Regions from separate parts of the Homo sapiens genome. Here all the other regions are linked to region 2. Evidence: fine-mapped expression QTL. A gene starts in region 2. Each other region holds a variant in brackets. All regions are shown on one strand. Distances are between the middles of the regions. Region 1 overlaps LLGL1 (LLGL scribble cell polarity complex component 1). Region 2 holds the start of ALKBH5 (alkB homolog 5, RNA demethylase). Region 3 has its middle 7.8 kb from the start of LLGL1.

Region 1 (6,025 bases), 61 kb after region 2:
GCTGCCTTATGGGTCTGTGTCCCTAGGCCCCCAGGTGCAGAGGGTGCTAAGGGTCCTGGTAGGGGCTGATGACTTGCTCCCTGTAGACACCCCGGAGCCACCCGAGGCTGCACTCTCACCCATGTCCATCGACTCAGCCACCAGTGCTGACACCACGCTGGACACGACAGGGGACGTCACAGTGGAAGATGTGAAGGATTTCCTGGGGTGAGGCTGGTGGGCAGGTCCACAGGGGGGGCTGCCCTGTCCCCTAGGCCTCCGTCCCCAGGGCTGCCAGGGGCTCCCCCGCCCCCACCCCTGAGCACCATCCCCATCTCGCAGCTCCTCTGAGGAGTCAGAGAAGAACCTGAGGAACCTGGCAGAAGACGAGGCCCACGCCTGTGCCATCCTGATCAAATGAGGTGCTGCAGGGGTGGGGCCCTGGTCCTCACCACTGGTGACGTCCACCCCCTTCAGCCCGTCTGGGTACCATTTGGCCCTGGTCTTCTACCTGAGACCCTGGCAGGCCCATGTGATGGCACTCTCTGAAACCTGGCTGCCTTCCATGGAGTGCCTCAATTGGGGACTTCTGGTGCTCACACAGACACCAGTGTCATGGTTGGGTATTAGAAAAGCAGGGCCAGCCCCTCAGCCCTTGCATGTGACAGGTGGTGGTTAGGACAAGACCAGATTTGTTTTGTTTTGTTTTGTTTTGTTTTGTTTTTGAGACGGAGTCTTGCTCTGTCGCCCAGGCTGGAGTGCAGTGGCGTGATCTTGGCTCACTGCAACCTCTGCCTCCTGGGTTCATGCCATTCTCCTGCCTCAGCCTCCTGAGCAGCTGGGACTACAGGCGCCCGCCACCACACCCAGCTAATTTTTTGTGTTTTTAGTAGAGACGGGGTTTCACTGTGTTAGCCAGGATGGTCTCGATCTCCTGACCTCATGATCCACCCGCCTCGGCCTCCCTAAGTCCTGGGATTACAGGCGTGAGCCACCGCACCCGGCCAACAAGACCAGATTAAACCACTTAGAGGTGGCAGTAGTTTGGGGCTTGGGAGCTGGTTTGGCCAGCCTGTTTCATAGATGAGATCACTGAGGTGCACGAGGTCAGGTCTCATCGGTTGGGCCCAGCAAGTGGCTGACTTACCCCTGCCTGAGTCTGTGGATCCTCACCTAGATGTGGGGCCCATAGATCTGCCCAGCGCATTTGCTGCCTCATGTTCCCAGGCACCTGACTGTAGGCCATAGCCTCACCCTGCACAGGACATGGACACCTCCCAGCTCTTTGTCTGGTGCCTCTCCCTGGCCTCAGTGGGGCATATGTGGCCTGGCGCTTGGATACCCATCTGGAGACTCAGCAAGCCCATCTCAGGTGGTCACTGAAGGGCCATGCCTGCCCTGCAGAGGAGACAGTGGCAGCACCTGTGTGGTCTGGCCGCTGTGGCAATCCATCTGCCCTTTTGCCCTCCCTCACCTTCTGCTGATACCTCTTCTCTCCCTCTTCCAGGAAGGCCAGAACTATCCCGACCTCCACCTGCCCTGCTCGGAGCTGGAGTGCTGGATCCCTGGCACCTGCCTGGCCCCTTAACATAGAACCACGCCTGCTAACCTGTAGGCTCCACTGGGACCTGCTGTCCTGTCCCGCCTGACCCTGGGCCCTGGAGCAGCACCAGCCCCAGGGTGTGGGCCTGGGACCTGGGCCAGAACTGAGCCCTCCTGCAGGCATTTGGCTGCCCTGGGGGCCCACTGCCTAGGGAAGAGGACAGGTGGGGCCCAGCACCTGTGCCACCTCCCCCCCTCCACACACCATCCTTCCCCCTCACTTTGCAGAGTATTTTTCCTTTTTTTTTTTTTTCTTAAAGACGGAGTCTTGCTCTGTCGCCCAGGCTGGAGTGCAGTGGCCCCATCTCTGCTCACTGCAAGCCCCGCCTTCTGGGTTCCCGCCATTCTTCTGCCTCAGCCTCCCAAGTAGCTGGGACTACAGGCGCCCACCACCACGCCCAGCTAATTTTTTCTGTATTTTTAGTAGAGATGGGGTTTCACCATGTTAGCCAGGATGGTCTCGATCTCCTGACCTCGTGATCCACCCACCTCAGCCTCCCAAAGTGCTGGGATTACAGGCGTGAGCCACCATGCCCAGCCCTGCAAAGAGTATTTTTCTAGCGCCTGGGCTGGACAGTTGTTTCTAAAACTAAACTATTTTGGTACCTGCTTCTGGGCCAGTCCCCAGCCTGTCATGAGTGTGTGTGTGCGGGCATGGATGTGACTGGGAGCTCTGCTGGGCACCCACATCTGGGGCCTAGTCAGGTGTGTGTGTCCGGCGGGGGGGGGGGGCAGGGGGGGGGGTCAAGATGAGTTTCCCTGTAGATTGTACCTTGGGGTTTTTTTCTGTCGTTTTGTTAAAATTAGCGCCATTTTAATATTAAAAATACTGATTTTTAATATTGAAAATAAAAGCATTTAATATCTCTTAAAGGGCATCCACATCTGCTTTATCCCTAGCGGAAGAGTGAGGGGGCTTCACACGTGCACTCACACTGTGGAGAGAGTTGGATTTCCCAGACCCCTGAGGGCACCTGTCAGGGTCATCCCCATTGGTGCTGCTTGAGGCTACTGGGGACTGTGGCACTGGACGTGGCTGGAGCAGGTGGTGTCACCTGAGTACATTCTTTGCTAGCAGACAGTGGATGAGGCCCCTTCCTCTTCCTCACCAAGCCTGGGGCTGTGCCAGCCTGTCTTAGGCCAGGGCCTTGCAGAAGGCGCTCCAGGCGTGGAAGCAGCGGGTAAAGGCGTGCTGCTCATTGCCCTTGCGGACCAGG[C/T]GCAGCCGGCGCGGCCGCTCATGTTCCTTGGACCGCATGTGCTGGATATATACCTGGCAAGGGGACAGCGAGCCTTGGGTGATGACCCTGCCCTGCCCACAGGCCCACCTCGGCCCTCCCTCCACCCAGATTACCTGGCAGGCCTTCAGGCTCAGCTTGATCTCCACCTGGCTAGTCTGGGTCCCCACCCACATGTAGACCTGTGGGGGCAGCAGGGGAGATACGGTTGCATGGGTGCCTGGGAACAGCCCCTTGCTCCTGGCCCGAGAATTCCCATTTGTAAGTAAGTCTATGGGCGCCTCCTTGGATGGGCAGGGCTAGTGGCAACATCACACCTCTTGGCCATTGTCTAGCAACATGATGTCATCATCTGCCAGGTCATCTTGGCAAAAGTCGGAGCATTTCTCAGTCACTGCAAAGTAGCCCTTCTCGTTGGAGCACCTGGGAATCAAGGGTCAAGGTGAGGCCAGAGGTCATAAGCAGCAGTGCCAGGACTGAGGGGAGGGTCAGGGCCCTGGCCTCACCGGAAGAGACGTGTGTGTTTCATGTACTCGGCATCGTCATCATAGGGCTTCTGTGCCCCAATGCCCACCCAGAAGAAGTTCTCAGGCTCCTCACCTTCGTTGATAACCTGCGGGAAAGGCCAGTCCAGCCCAGGGCCCCTGCCTGCCCTGGCTCCTCTGTGTGTGCCCGCCTGCCCGCCCGCCTCCTGACCTGCTTGCTGTAGGAGGTGTCAAACATGGTGTTCAGGATGTCTTCTGCCAACTTGGCTTCGTCAGGGTCTGATGCCCGGCCCACCCAGGCATACACGATGCCCTGGTTGTCCTCACTCTCAAAGGGAACCTGGGGAGTGTGCAGGGGTGGGGGTGTTCGCAGCTGACTCAGCCCCCAAACACCCCACCCCTTGGTCCACGGAGTCCTGGCTCACACCCACAACCCCACCTTGAGGATGAAGCAGAACTCGGAGTTGAGGAGGCTGGAGTCGGTGTTGATCTGGATGCACCTGTGGAAGGGATGGGGCATCAGCAAGGATTCAGGCCTGGCTCCCTGACGCTTGCTCGCCACTGCGTCCTCCCCCAGCCAGGCACCGGGTGCAGAGGGCGCTGCCGTTGGTGCGGATCTGGTAGAGGCTGGGCTGTTGGGCGCCCTGGACCGCCTTCCTCTTGCCCCGGTGGATGATGAACTTCCTCTTGAAATGGGACAGGAACTTGGGGTTCTCCTGCTGCTGCGTCATGCGTACCACCTGGGGATGTGGAAGTGTTAGGGGCAGCTCCCTGGACCCCCACCTGCCCCTCGGGAGCCTAACCTTCGCTGGGTCTGAGCCCCACCACACCCCTCCGCCTGGCCTCGGGCTCGCGGGGCTGCCAGGCACACCTCCAGCTTCCCAGGGAAGAGGCTCTCGAACTTCTTTTGCAGGCTGAAGGTGAAGGTGAGCCAGCCCATATTGGAGGCTTCACGGCCCTGCCAGAAGTACACGATGCACTGGAAGTCCTCCTCTGGCTGCTTCTCCTCTGCCTCAGCGGTTGCTTCCTCGCCTTCTTTGCCCTCGGCCTTCTCCTCCTTGTCTTCCTTCTTTTCCTCCTCCTCGTACTCCACAGGCACCCAGTACCTGCCGGGTTGGAAGGTTGTGAGCAGGGGCTCGAGCCCCCAGCACCAGGGGAGGGACTTGGGGAAGGGAGTGCTGAGGTGGTACCTGCAGAGGAAGACGTAGCAGTCCTGCGTGTAGAAGTGGCCAAACTCCTCTTCCGGCAGCCGCGCAAACTTCTTGCCCTCCAGCACGAAACCCTCCATGCCGTCTAGGTCTTCGTTCCACTCCTCCATCAGCTGCTCCGCCTGCAGGTGAGAGGGACCCGCCCCGCGGCAGGTCTGAGCGCGCTCTGCGCATAGGCCCCGCCCTCGGCCTGCCCCCCACCCCCCCCCCCGCGCCCCGGTCCCGGCCCTGCCCCCACCTCGGCCAGCGACATGGGCGGCTGCCGCGGCAGGAAAAGCGCAGTGAGGTCAGCCTTCATCTGGTCTTTCTTCTCGGCGTCGCGTTTCACCTTCCCGGAGAGACCCGGGCTCTGCAGCACGGCCTCCGCATTGCGTGTGTAGTCCACCGTCAACACATCGTCCCAATTCTTGAACTTGGCCTTGAACACCTGCCAGGGAGGCCATCAACTAACCATGAGGGGTGCGGCATGATTAGAGTTGGAGGAAGTAGCCCGAGGCTTGAGGCGGGACCCAAGGGAGATCTAGGGCGGGGCTTGGGAGGCGGGGCCTCGGACACGGAGGTAGGAATAGGAGGGGCAGCTTGCAGAGGGGGCGGGGCCTGGGCAGAGTCAGCAAAGAGGAGGTGGGTTTGGGCCCAGCTCTGTAGGGAGGTAGTGAAGCCACAGGGGTCAGGGCATGTCAGGGTGCGAAGGATCCTGGGGAGGGGCCTCCGAAGCTGCAAGCGCACCTGCGCCTCGGTGCCCTCGAGGCTGCGGCTGACCGTGGCATGGCGTGGCCGGTGCAGCATCCCGCACAGCTCCTGACCCAGCTTGAGGGCGGCAGCGCGCACCAGGCGCGGGGACTTGCGGCCGAGCCAGATGAACACGTCGGACCAACAGTCCAGAATGTACACGCAGCGCGTGTCCAGCAGACTCTGCAGCTGCGGACCGGGAGTCTGGAGGTCAAAGCCCAGCCAACGGGGAGGGATCTGGCCCCACGCCCTCCTCCTGCATCTCTTACCAGCCGCATTCTTGGCATCAGCTCCACCTTGGGACGCTGCTTATGTTCCACGGAGAGCTTGTAGTTGATCTGTGGCAGCTCCAGGTAGCCCAAGCCCAGGCCCACCTGGCAGGAAGGATGAGCATGGCAGGGAAGGGATCTGGAGACAGGAACCTCACCCACACAGCCCTCTGCTCTGGAACCAGCCCTGCCCTGCAGCGTGGCTCACTGACTGCTTCTGTTTCCCCCTCCCCTTCAAGGTCTTTTTAGGGATATCCTTTCAGAAGGGCTTTTAAATGGAGTTTTCCCTGCCTGCCCTCTCCAGGCCCTTCATGCCATTTCTAATTAACGTGTCCCTTTCCTGTTCACAAGAATCTAGATAATTGAGCCAAGGTTCCCAGCCCTGGCACTAGGTGCTTCTGTCTCCCCTACGGCCCCACCATCCTGGAAAGACTCCGTGAGGCTACTTCTCAAAAGCAGCCTCCAGACCTTTGCTCATACTGTTCCTTGTCCAGAAGGTGGCACCCTCTCCCCACCAA
Region 2 (6,279 bases):
AGGAACTCACCAGAAAGAGTGTGGTGTCAATCAAGTTACCACTGTGCAGGGGCCATGCCTGGCAGCAGCTCACTTAACCCCTGGGGTTCTGCCTGCGGCGCTGATGCTCAGTATAGGGACCCCCAAAACAGAGCACAGTGGGCTCCAACATGAGGCAGCCCTGAGGCCTGCCCTCTGCCCCTCATTTCTCATTGTTGTGAGATCATACATGGTGTGTGTGAGGGGGAGGGGGTGTCAGGCTAATTCTTTTGCCCCAAAACCTTTTCCCTAGTCAAGCTGAACTATGAGGCTCAGGAAGGGATGATGTGGCAGAGTGAAAACGAGGGGGCCCTTTTGGCTTTCAGAATACAACTGGGGCCTCCCACACAGACTACAAGCGGCTTCTTGGAAGTAGATCATCCAGGTTGAGCCAAAATGTGAATCACCTCTTCTCTAGGTTGACACAGCCTCTCCCATAACGGACACTGCATTGGAAGCTTCCCTGTGTTCCTCCCTGACTGCTCTTGAGCTAGGACTCTCCCCTCTCGGAGCCCCGGTGAGGGACAGCACAGATTCTGGAACCAGGCAGCCTGGGTTTGAATCATCACTAGGCCACATACTCGCTGTATGGCCTTGGGCAAGTCATTTCACCTCTCTGGGCCTGTTTCCCTATATATACAATGGTAATAATAATAATGCCCTCCTCATTGAATTGTTTGGACGATTAATTGGGCTAGTATATGCACAGGTCCTGGCACATAGTAAAAACTTGATAAGCTTTTTAAAAAAATGTCCATTCCAGGCTGGGCGCAGTGGCTTACGCCTGTAATCCCAGCACTTTGGGAGGCCGAGGCAGGAGGATCTTGTGCCCAGTAGTTCCAAGACCAATTTGACAACATGGTGAAACCCCATCTCTGCTAAAAACAGAAAAATTAGCGGGGTGTGGTGGTACACGCCTCTACATAGTTCCAGCTACTCAGGAGGCTGAGGTGTGGGAGGATGTCTTGAACCCGGGAGGTCGAGATTGCAGTCAGCCAAGATCGTGCCACTGCACTTCAGCCTGGGCAACAGAGACTCTGTCAAAAAAGAACGAGGAGGAGGAGGGGAAGGGGGAGAGAGAGAGGGAGACGGGTGATAAGGAACTGGCATGGGCAACAGCCATGGCAAACAGCCTGGGCAAAGGCCAGGAGGTGAGACACAGTATGTTTGTAGACCTGGCTTACAGGATGAGGACCAGGCTGGGGCTCAGTGTACATGGAAAGAGAGGAGAGGAGGAGCCAAGGCCAGAAGAGTCTTGAAGAAAAGCTTTGAGTGCCAAATAAAGCAGGGGAACTTTATCCTGGGAGACATGGGAGATTTTCCAGCAGATCCCCCCCGACCCCCATTTGTTGGAGCCCTCCAGTGCATCCTGCACGGCTACGCCTTTTTGTTTTGTTTTGCAGCTCTGTCGCCCAGGCCGGAGTGCAGTGGCGCCAGCTCGGCTCTCTGCAGCCTCAATCCCCTGGGCTCAAGGGATCCTCCCACCTCAGCCTCCTGAGTAGCTAGGACCATAGGCGCGCGCCACCACGCCCAGTTCATTTTTAAAAATTTTATTGTAGAGATGGGGTTGCCATGTTGGCCAGGCTGGTCTCAAACTCCTGGGCTCAAGTGATCCGCCCGCCTTGGCCTCGCAAAGTGCTGGGATTACAGGCGTGAGGCCCCGCGCCCGGCAACGCCTTTGCTGACTGCTTCAAAACTTTTTTGAATTGACTGTAGTCATTATCTATAGCTTAGCCTTAGCCTTGCGCCCGTTCGTTTCCTGGAGTTTTCTTCCAGAGTCCCCGTAGGAGGTGCCCCCACGCCCATCTCCAGCACCAAGGAGGCTCGACGCCAACCCCAGCGCGCCCCCACGCTCGCCGTCACCGGGACGTGACTCGTGAAACGTCCGCTCCGGGCGGCGGCGGCAGCGGCGGCAGGCTGGCTTGTACCCCGACAACGCGCGTCTGGCTTCTGCCGGACGTTCCTATCTGGGTTCAGAACTGGGGCCGGGTGCTGCAGGTCCCGCAGTCTGAGAAGTTTTCGCGGGTTTCAGAAGTTTCCTTAGGCGTTCTAAGGGCTTTACTCAGGTGGAGTCTCCATTCAGGCACTTATTTAACCACCCATTTCTCCTTTAGGGGTCCTCGCTGCTCGCCCAGCCGCTAATTAAGTGACGGACACAGTAGCTAAGGAGACTGCCTGATTGACACGCATGATTACCAACCGACTTCCGGAAACTCCAGTCAGGGCCTGCCCGGCGCGTGGCCCACGGCCCAATTAAAGAAGTGGAAGCGCCAAAGGGGGAGGTAACGGAGCGGCCTACGTTGTGGCGGTTCCCTGGTGAATGCGCCCTGGGGTTGAGGCGTCTGCGGGCGTTCGGACGATGCCGTGACGCGGCACGGCGACACTGTTGGCAATATGAGCGCACCCCTGTAGAGGGAGCCCTTCGGTCCTGGAGGCGGCGCGGCGTGAAGACAGGTTGCTATTTGAGAGCGTTCCCTTGAAGCCCCTCAGAGAGTGGGGGAGGGGCGGCGGACGGCAAGCGGTTCCTGTCTGCGCTTGCGCCGGCGCCTCTGCCGACCCGGCCTGCACGCACGCGCATGCCCGTAGCGCGCGGAGCCGCGGTGGCCGGCAGCACTGCGCGTGCGCGGTGAGGAGCCCGCTAAGGAGCGGCGCTGGCGGACGTCGGGCTGGCTGCCCGTGACGTCGTGCGGAGAGCTTTAAAGTGCGGGCCGGGCCGGGCGTCCGAGGGTCTGGTCGGGAGTCGGGCCGCGTCTCCGCAGCAGCCCTCCGCGGCATGAGGCGCTGCCGGCGCCCCTGCCCCGCGGGACGTGGAGAAGGTGGAGGAGGAAGAAGCCCCGTTGTCGCCACCGTTGCATGACCCGCCGCTCCTGAGGCCCTACCCCACGCCCGGACCCTCGACGCCCCCCGCCGGGTCCCCCACTCACGCATGGGGGTTCGGCGCTAAGGACCCCCCTCCCTCCGGGGGCCCCGGGGCGCGTCCCCTTAGAGCCATGCCCGGCTGCCCCGCCCGCCCCGGAGGACCCTAGAGCAGCGTCGTGGGGGCCATGGCGGCCGCCAGCGGCTACACGGACCTGCGTGAGAAGCTCAAGTCCATGACGTCCCGGGACAACTATAAGGCGGGCAGCCGGGAGGCCGCCGCCGCTGCCGCAGCCGCCGTAGCCGCCGCAGCCGCAGCCGCCGCTGCCGCCGAACCTTACCCTGTGTCCGGGGCCAAGCGCAAGTATCAGGAGGACTCGGACCCCGAGCGCAGCGACTATGAGGAGCAGCAGCTGCAGAAGGAGGAGGAGGCGCGCAAGGTGAAGAGCGGCATCCGCCAGATGCGCCTCTTCAGCCAGGACGAGTGCGCCAAGATCGAGGCCCGCATTGACGAGGTGGTGTCCCGCGCTGAGAAGGGCCTGTACAACGAGCACACGGTGGACCGGGCCCCACTGCGCAACAAGTACTTCTTCGGCGAAGGCTACACTTACGGCGCCCAGCTGCAGAAGCGCGGGCCCGGCCAGGAGCGCCTCTACCCGCCGGGCGACGTGGACGAGATCCCCGAGTGGGTGCACCAGCTGGTGATCCAAAAGCTGGTGGAGCACCGCGTCATCCCCGAGGGCTTCGTCAACAGCGCCGTCATCAACGACTACCAGCCCGGCGGCTGCATCGTGTCTCACGTGGACCCCATCCACATCTTCGAGCGCCCCATCGTGTCCGTGTCCTTCTTTAGCGACTCTGCGCTGTGCTTCGGCTGCAAGTTCCAGTTCAAGCCTATTCGGGTGTCGGAACCAGTGCTTTCCCTGCCGGTGCGCAGGGGAAGCGTGACTGTGCTCAGGTAACCCACCCGGGTGGAGGGGGCGGCCCTGCGCCTGCTGCCTTAGCTACCCACCCTGGCCCAGAAAGCAGCAGCCCGTAGGAGTCTGCGTTTTTTACAGTTCTGACCAGTTCTTCTGTTTGTAGATTGTAGGGAGCGAGAGAAGGGTTTTGTGTTTAAGATACCTATAGCAAGAAAATAGGGAACCGATGTGGAAATCCTGTCCCCGAAGGCAGGTTTGACGGGATCACTGACTTGGCTGAGAATTCATCGAAAGCCATCTTTTCAGAAGGCTGTTCCCTTTGATTTTTTTTTTTCCCACCATCCATTTCTTAGCATAAGTCCCTTTGTGATTTTCCGGTTTTCCATTCTGGCCTTCCATTTACAAATCTATGCTTTAAAATTTTTTTTTTTTTTAATTTATCTAAAAGTCTTTCTTGTTCTGCCATTTTTGGATTCCTTAACAGAGAAAGTAGTCACAGGCAAAGGCCCCAGAGATTATTTAATTGAAGCACATTCTCCATTCCCAGGAGGGGGAGTGACTTCCCTGGAGTTGAACAGATTAGTGGTTGGGCCAGGCATACAGAGCAGCACACTCTTAAAATTCTTCCCTCCTGGCTGCAGAAGAGCCCATCAGTTCTTTGTAAGAACGTGTTACTTGTAGTCAGGACTGAATACAACAGAATACAGCTGGTCTCTTGACTGTTTGGCCTTACAGTTGCGTGAGCAGCAGAACTTAGGCTTTTGGCCTATATTCGGTTCCCAGATCCTGCTGAGAATTAGCTCAGTGCCCTGGCCCCCAGAGGAGATTGCCATTGGGAACACCTTTGCTGTTTATGTGAAGTGAAAATTTATTTGGAAGCGGCCTCCTTCCAGTCCTGAAAAAGGTAAACCTAGTAATGTAATTCAGTAATACCCAAAACATCTTAGGTTTAGACCGCAGCTGTTCTCAGAGCAGCTTGGTTGACCACCACCAAATACAAGGTTGAGGACACACTGGGCTTTTGTCGTGAGCAGCCCAGGTTCTGAAGTGAGTCAGTAGGGCCAAAGTCATGAGGAGAAGCAGGGTCCCTGGAGCCTTCTTGATATGAGATTAGGTCATCTGTTTCATTTGAGTCTAACAGCTGAGGCTGCTTCCATGTTGGGGATGGCAGCAGAGCCTTGTAATGTCCAAGACGTCCTGGTGGGAAGGTGGGAAGTCAGTAGTAGCAGAAGCGATACTTTAGCTCTTTAGGCATCTGAAACTTAGAGGACAGCCTAGCTGTCAGATGCCTTCTTATAATGGGCTTCTGAGCTTCTCAGATCTTCATGGCGCTCCTAGATGGATGTCTTGGCAAAATGCTTTAAGATGGGATTTCCAGGACACACCCTCTCCGGGTGCTTGCTGTGTAAGGCAGGTTGGGGTCTGACCCCATTGACGGGTTCTCAGTGCAAAAATTACCTCACACAAGGACCATTTGGTCTCTTAGCGGGATATTAATTTTCTGCGTAGTCATTGGCCCTCAGGGTGGTTGTCAGGAGGTCTAGTAGTGGTCTGGTGCTTAATGAGGGGATCACAAGGCATTTTTTTTTGGTTTTGGGACTACTACTCTCCTTAACACATGCCCACCCTGTATTTTAAGAACAGAAGTTTCGAGTTCTTAGTATGCAGGTCTGTTAGTGATCAGCAACAGGATTGCATCATCAGGAAAATTCTCTTCATCTTTTCCTCAGAATAGTAAAGTCCTAAAGCTTTCCCAGTCCCTGTCAACCCTTTCTGGATTCAGACTTGGCTGTGGTGTTAGTGTGGGAGGCTCAGCCATGTCCTGAAAAGTGCTGCCCCAGGCTTTGAATCCAGCTTTTCTCTCATTTGCTTTGGGATCTTGTAGGCGTTCTCTGAGCTGGCTTTCCCATCTGTAAGTGGGGATGATGCCAACTTCCAAAGCCTATTAGAATTAAATGTGGTGATTTGTTGTCTAAGATAGGGCCTGGCACAGGGTAGGTACTTAAATGGGTGCTTGCTTTCATATACAACCACTCAGTGATCCCCTGCTCTCTCACTGGGGAAGGAACTAGGGATTTGGTGGAGCCTGAAACATGACAGTTTCCCTTCGTGTAGTTCAAGCCCCATGGAGGCCTCAGACAGGAGGATAAGTTATAGCCCAGGAAGGTAACTGCAGAAGCACACTGAAGGGGGACATCTTTTCCACTTTGGAGTGTTGGAAGTTTAGGGGAGGAAATGAACTGGAATGTGAAAAGTGACTAGGAATGAGCCAAGCAGAGAAAGGTGGAGAAATACACAACAGCAGTGTCTTTGGCTGCAGTAGCAGGAGTAGCCATAGGTAAGAGGGGGTGGATGTTGATGGGAGGCAGATGGAGTTCATTAGTAGAGACTGTGGTTGAGGGTGCTCTGGTGAACTCTAGATCAGGGCTTCTCAACAGTGCTATTGTTATTCAGGGCTTGATAATGCTTCATTGTTGAGGCTGTT
Region 3 (6,279 bases), 34 kb after region 2:
GTTAGCCAGGCTTGGTGGGCGCCTGTAATCCCAGCTACTTGGGAGGCTGAGGCAGGAGAATCGCTTGAACCTGGGAGGCGGAGGTTGCAGTGGGCCAAGATCGTGCCACTGCACTCCAGCCTGGGCGACAAGAGCAAAACTCTGTCCTCAAAAAAAAATTTTTTTTTTGTAGAAGACTTCACACTGTGTTGCCCAGGCTAGTCTCAAACTCCCAGCCTCAAGTGATCCTCCTGCCTTGTCCTCCCAAAGCACTGAGCCACTGCACCCGGTCCCCTATGTAATGATGTTTAATTATATTCGAAAGACCCTTTTTCCTTATGAGGTGACATTCACAGGTCCCAGGGATAATGACCCGATATTTGTGGAGGCCATGGATCAGCCCCTACATGCCCTTCTCCCAGTAAAGTTATTGCCATTAAATCTGATATATCATCTGCTTTCTCATCCTCAAATATTAGTTGGATTAAAATTTCTCAGCTATAGCAGTACTTTTAAATTTAATCTGAATCATTAATATTTTCCTTCACTTTCTCTTTTTTTTGAGACGGAGTCTTGCTCTGCCGCCCAGGCTGGAGTACGGTGGCATGATCTCGGCTCTCTGCAAGCTCTGCCTCCCGAGTTCATGCCATTCTCCTGCCTCAGCCTCCTGAGTAGCTGGGACTACCCGCCACCACGCCTGGCTAATTTTTTGTATTTTTTAGTAGAGACAGGGTTTCACCGTGTTAGCCAGGATGGTCTTGATCTCCTGACCTGGTGATCTGCCCACCTCGGCCTCTCAAAGTGCTGGGATTACAGGCGTGAACCACCACATCCGGCCCTCTTCATCACTTTCTTAAATCTAGACCTGTGTTCTTCAGTACAGCAGCCACTGATACTTGGCTATTGAGTATTTGAAATGTGGCTAGTTTGAATTGAAATGTGCTTTTAGTGTAAAATACCAGAATTTGAAGAGTTAGTATGAAAAAAACAATGTAAATCATTAAGAACTTTATATTGATTACTTGTTGAAGATACTATTTTGAGCTGGGCATGGTGGCCTACGTATAATCCCATCACTTTGGGAAGCTATGGTGGATGGATTACTTGAAGTCAGGAGTTTGAGAGCAGCCTGACCAAATGGCAAAACCCCGTCTCTACTAAAAACACAAAAATTAGGTGTGGTGGCGCTCGCCTGTAATCCCAGCTACTTGGGAGGCTGAGGCAGGCTTGCACCTAGGAGGCAGAGATTGCAGCGAGCCAAGATCGTGCCACTACAGCCTGGGTGAGAGAGCGAGACTTTGTCTCAAAACCCCCCCAAAAAAGAAGAAAAAAAAAACTATTTTGGACATATGTTAAATTTGGACATACTGGGTTAAATAAAATAGGCTGAGGCAGGAGAATTGCTTGAACCTGGGAGGCGGAGGTTGCAGTGAGCCCGAGACCGTGCCATTGCACTCCAGCCTGGGCAACAGAGCCAGACTCTGTCTCAAAAAAAAAAAAAAAAAAAAGCTATTTAAATTAATTTCACCTGTTTTCTGTTACTGTTATATCTGGGTACTCAATAATGAAAATTACATATGTGTCTTGCATTATATTTCTGTTGGATGGTACTGGTCTAGAAAACTATAGAGCTGGGCACAGCAGCACACCCTGTATTCCCAGCTACTCAGGAGGCTAAGCGGGAGGATTGCTTAAGTCCAGGGGTTATCATGGCTGATTGCAGCTGATCAAGGTAAGGTCACTGAACATCGAGCTGTGAAGAAATGTGCAGTAACACCCCAATATATAGTGTTTCCACCATACAGATACAATAGATGTAATCCAAGAGTACAGATAATAGGAAAATGTGGCAAAATAAGTAGGAAATGCTTAGTTTTTAATATTACCCTTAGTTTTTAGTGTAATTTTAATTTTATATAATTAATTTTTAATGACTTTAACAACTGACTCACAAAAGTTCTTGAAAATTTGCCATTTGGCTCTTGCAGAGGGCTCCAGCACACCACTAGATTCCCATAGAGAGTTTGAGCAGAGGAGTGATGTGAACAGATGTAGGATCACTGGTGCTGCTGTGCAGAGGACTGTCAAAATCAATAAGAAAACCACTTTCTTAGCTGAGTGCAGTGGCTCACGCCTGTAGTTCCAGCACTTTGGGAGGCTGAGGTGGGTGGATCACCTGAGGTCAGGAGTTCAAAACTAGCCTGGCCAACATGGTGAAACCCTGTGTCTACTGAAAATACAAAAATTAGCCAGCCTGGTGGTGGGCGCCTGTAATCCCAGCTGCTCGGAAGGCTGAGGCAGGAGAATTGTTTGAACCCGGGAGGCAGAGGTTGCAGTGAGCTGTGATCGTGCCATTGCACTCCAGCCTGGACGACAAGAGTGAAACTGTCTAAAAGAGAGAGGAGAGAGAAAGAGGAGAGAGAGAGAAAAGAAGAAAGAAAAGAAGAGAAAGAGAAAGAAAAGAAAAGGAAAGAAAGGAAGGCCTGGCACGGTGGCTTACACCTGTAATCCCAGCACTTTGGGAGACCGAGGTGGGCGGATCACGAGGTCAAGATATCGAGACCATCCTGGCCAACCTGGTGAAACCCTGTCTCTACTAAAAATACAAAAAAAATTAGCCGGGCATGGTGGCAGGCACCTGTAATCCCAGCTACTTGGGAAGCTGAGGCAGGAGAATCGCTTGAACCCGGGAGGCGGAGGTTGCAGTGAGCCGAGATCGCGCCATTGCACTCCAGCCTGGGTGACAAAGTGAGACTCCGTCCCCCCCCCCAAAAAAAAAAAAAAGAAAGAAAAGAAAAAAGAAAATCCACTGTCTTTGTGAGAGATGGAAAACTAAGGGCTCGGGCAGTGTCAGGGCTGGGGTCCTCCAGTTAGGTGTGAGGCGCTTGCTGCCGCAGTTCCTCCTGTGTCCACAGTGTGGCAGCATAGCCTGAGTGATGGTGCTTCAGAGTAGAGGGCAAGGGCCAGCAGCTGTCCCTTGGTTTGGATGGGGAACTGAGGTCCCCAGAGACCCCCGAACCTGCCAGAGGTTACTCAGAGCCAATAACTTAGGTTCCCCACTGCTTCTGCCCTTCTCAGCCAGGGATCTCAGGGCTAGTAGGGTTTTCCTCCCACTTCCTTACTAATCCTAGTAGGTGTGGAGGGGCACTGGGACCTGTGGGTCAAGCAGATGCCATCAGGTCCACCCCCAGGCCACACATAACAGCAGTCCCAGCCTGGGCCCCACGCTACCTCTCTTGGCCCCAGCTCCTTGGAGAGTTCTAGACATCTTTGCAAGTGCCAGTACTCTGCCTCAGGCAGCTCTCTTCCATGCTACCTTCTCTGGCCCCCTCCCAGGCTTTTCAGGGGTGCCTTTGGGCTCCCCCACCCAGACCGGGGCCTCCTTTGGCACTGCCTAGAGTGTACTCTGTGGTCCCAGTGTTTCCACTCCAGGCTGGGAAACAGGGCCCTAACTCCCACCTTCTCCTGCACTCTCATTGAGTGAGGCCATTAACTTACTGTCTCATTTAATTCTCGCTGCAACCTCTGAGACGTCATGAGGGGACTAGGTTTACATCCTGATTCTGCAATATACTAGCTGTGTGACTTTGGGCAAGTTAACCTCTCTGGCCTCAGTTTCTTCCTTTGTAAAATGGGCATAAGATTAAAGGAATAACTAGTGCCTGGCACAGACTAAGTGCTCAGTGTTAATAAATGGTAGCAATTAATATTAGCCCGCATTTCGCAGATGAGAAAACAGGCCCAGAGAGGGAAAGTGGCAGAGGCAG[G/T]ATTAGCACTTGGGGCACCAGAGAGAAGTGAAACACAAAGCCCCACCTTCCAACAGGTCTGTGGTAATGTCCACATACCCAGCCCCTTGGGCCTCAATCCTGACAGTCCTTGCAGGGAGCAGGTGTGCCCAGATCCCCGTTCCTGTAGCCCAGCATGAGCCAAGAAAAGCATACTCAGGATCCAGGCTCAGCGAGTGTCAGGGCTGAGAGTCCTGCCTCCAGAGAAGGAGCACTCGGTTAGAGGTCCAGGGACTCATATATTATTCACCTGTCACCTTGGGCAGGTCACTTCTCTGAACCTCAGCTTCCTCCCTTGTATAAAACAAGGACAGAGTAGGTCAGCCCCAACACTCCCCCTACCTGTCTGGCCTTTCTTTCATGGAGGCACACAACACTATTCACTCTCTGTAGATTGAGGAGGCCCTAAATCCATTGCTCCCTTCTGTCTGGACCTAAAGGACACAAGACCTTATTAAGCTTCAGCTTCATTTGCATACCACATGGGATGAGGTATTCACTCCTCCCTGGCTTGGGCTGGTCTGCTGACCCTGTCTTGGAGTCTCAGTAAGCCCACCCTTTCTCCCACTCCCTCATCTCTCTCCTTCCATCCTGGGCCCTGCCTAGCTCTGTCCCAACCTAGACCACTCCAGGAATTTTCCAGCCTGCCAGATCTGGCCCCCCAGGAGCCACTAGGAAGAAGTTGAGTCCGTGGTTTGGGCAGCTCGAGAGGGTCATGGCCTCAGCTGGGATCTGGGCCAGCTTCTGAAAGCCAGGGCCTGCCTTCTTCAGTCAGACTCTTGGTTTTCCTCCCACTTCCTTACTGACCCTAATCTACCTCCCTTGGAGCTTCCCCACTTGTCGCTCCCTGAGATCACCCTTTCTCTTTCCCTCTGCAGAGGAGTGACCAAGTCACTTCTCTACACGTATCTTCCATTTACTGTCTATAAAACAGGGTTGTTCTGGTATCTATGAGGATTCAGGGAGATATGCACAGATATAGCCTTTACTGGGGCACCTACGTCCGAAGACACCTTCAATGCATGCCATCCTGTTCACCTACCTGCCTACTTACATCCCATCAACCACCAAACCGCCACTTCTGTGGACTTAACTCCTGAACAGTATGGATTATTTGTTGTTGTTTTTGTTTGTTTTCTTTTTTTTTTTTTGAGACAGCGTCTCACTCTTGCCCAATCTGGAGTGCAGTGGTGCGATCTTGGCTCACTACAACCTCCGCCTCCCGGGTTCAAGCGATTCTCCTGCCTCAGTCTCTCAAGTAGCTGGAATTACATGCATGCGCCACCACACCTGGCTAATTTTTATATTTTTATTTTTATTTATTTTGTTATTTATTTATTTTTTGAAATGGAGTTTCACTCATGTTGCCGAGGCTGGAGTGCAATATCTTGGCTCACTGCAACCTCTGCCTCCTAGGTTCATGCAATTCTCCTGCCTCTGCCTCCAGGGTAGCTGGGATTACAGGCATGTGCCATACACCTGGCTAATTTTTTGTATTTTTAGTAGAGACAGGGTTTCACCGTGTTAGCCGGGATGGTCTCGATATCCCAACCTCAGGTGATCCACCAGCCTTGGCCTCCAAAAGTGCTGGGATTACAGGCGTGAGCGAGTGGGCCCGGCAATTTTTGTATTTTTAGTAGAGACAGCGTTTCACCATATTGGCCAGGCTGGACTCAAACTCCTGGCCTCAAGTGATCTGCCCACCTTGGCCTCCCAAAGTGCTGGGATTACAGGTGTGAACCACCGTGCCCGGCCTCAGATCTTTAATCTATTTTTTAAAATTGTTTTCTTTGAGACGGAGTCTCACTCTGTCACCCAGGCTGGAGTGCAGTGGCGTGATCTCAGCTTACTGCAACCTCTGCCTCCTGGGTTCAAGTGATTCTCCTGCCTCAGCCTCCTGAGCATTACAGGTATGCACCATCACACCTGACTAATGTTTTTTTTTTTTTGTATTTTTAGTAGAGATGAGGTTTCACCATGTTGGTCAGGCTAGTCTCGAATTCCTGACCTCGTATTCCACCTGCTTCAGCCTCCCAAAGTGCTGGGATTACAGGCGTGAGCCACTGTGCCCGGCTTTAATCTGTTGTTTTAAATGTGTCGAGCATTAATTATGTGCCAGGCGCTATTCTAGGCACAGCTGGTTCACTAGGAACAAACCCTGCTGGGTCCTGTGCTCAACTCTTTTTTTGAGACAGAGTCTCGCTCTGTCGCCCAGGCCGGAGTGCAGTGGCACTGATCTCGGCTCACTGCAACTGCTGCCTCCTGGGTTCAAGTGATTCTCCTGCCTCAGCCTGCCAAGTAGCTGGGACTACAGGTCTGTGCCATCACGCCCGGCTAATTTTTTGTATTTTTAGTAGAGATGGGTTTTCACCGTGTTAGCCAGGATGGTCTTTATCTCCTGACCTCGTGATCTGCCCTCCTCGGCCTCCCAAAGTGCTGGGATTACAGGCGTGAGTCACCGCGCCCGGCCTCAAATCTTGTTTTGAGTCATCTCATTTAGTCCTTACTGCATTTT

The links. PIP is the estimated chance that this variant, and not a neighbour inherited with it, causes the effect.
Region 1: its variant is the best candidate, but not a certain one, in a credible set for the expression of ALKBH5 in whole blood (INTERVAL, PIP 0.87).
Region 3: its variant is the best candidate, but not a certain one, in a credible set for the expression of ALKBH5 in whole blood (TOPMed, PIP 0.82).

Annotation. Positions count from the first base shown.
Region 1 is chr17:18,242,422-18,248,446 of GRCh38, forward strand. It overlaps LLGL1 (LLGL scribble cell polarity complex component 1), which reads left to right. Exons shown (of 23, transcript NM_004140.4): 21 at 87-207; 22 at 322-401; 23 at 1,487-2,454. The coding sequence ends at 400. FLII (FLII actin remodeling protein) reads right to left here. Exons shown (of 30, transcript NM_002018.4): 19 at 5,508-5,612; 20 at 5,236-5,427; 21 at 4,748-4,936; 22 at 4,492-4,631; 23 at 4,173-4,407; 24 at 3,887-4,041; 25 at 3,741-3,801; 26 at 3,513-3,641; 27 at 3,323-3,429; 28 at 3,134-3,239; 29 at 2,933-2,998; 30 at 2,394-2,851. The coding sequence ends at 2,717. Among named protein-coding and RNA genes, the nearest start is that of FLII, 13 kb to the right of the region's middle. RefSeq lists enhancers at 4,584-5,135, 5,686-6,025. The variant C/T (reference allele first, on the strand shown) is at 2,799.
Region 2 is chr17:18,181,182-18,187,460 of GRCh38, forward strand. ALKBH5 (alkB homolog 5, RNA demethylase) reads left to right here and starts at 2,647. Exons shown (of 4, transcript NM_017758.4): 1 at 2,647-3,832. The coding sequence starts at 3,063. RefSeq lists silencers at 314-608, 2,745-3,044, 3,125-3,214, 3,373-3,524, 4,748-4,797 and enhancers at 2,035-2,234, 2,295-2,534, 2,642-3,479.
Region 3 is chr17:18,214,695-18,220,973 of GRCh38, forward strand. No RefSeq gene overlaps it. Among named protein-coding and RNA genes, the nearest start is that of LLGL1, 7.8 kb to the right of the region's middle. RefSeq lists an enhancer at 2,887-2,986. The variant G/T (reference allele first, on the strand shown) is at 3,747.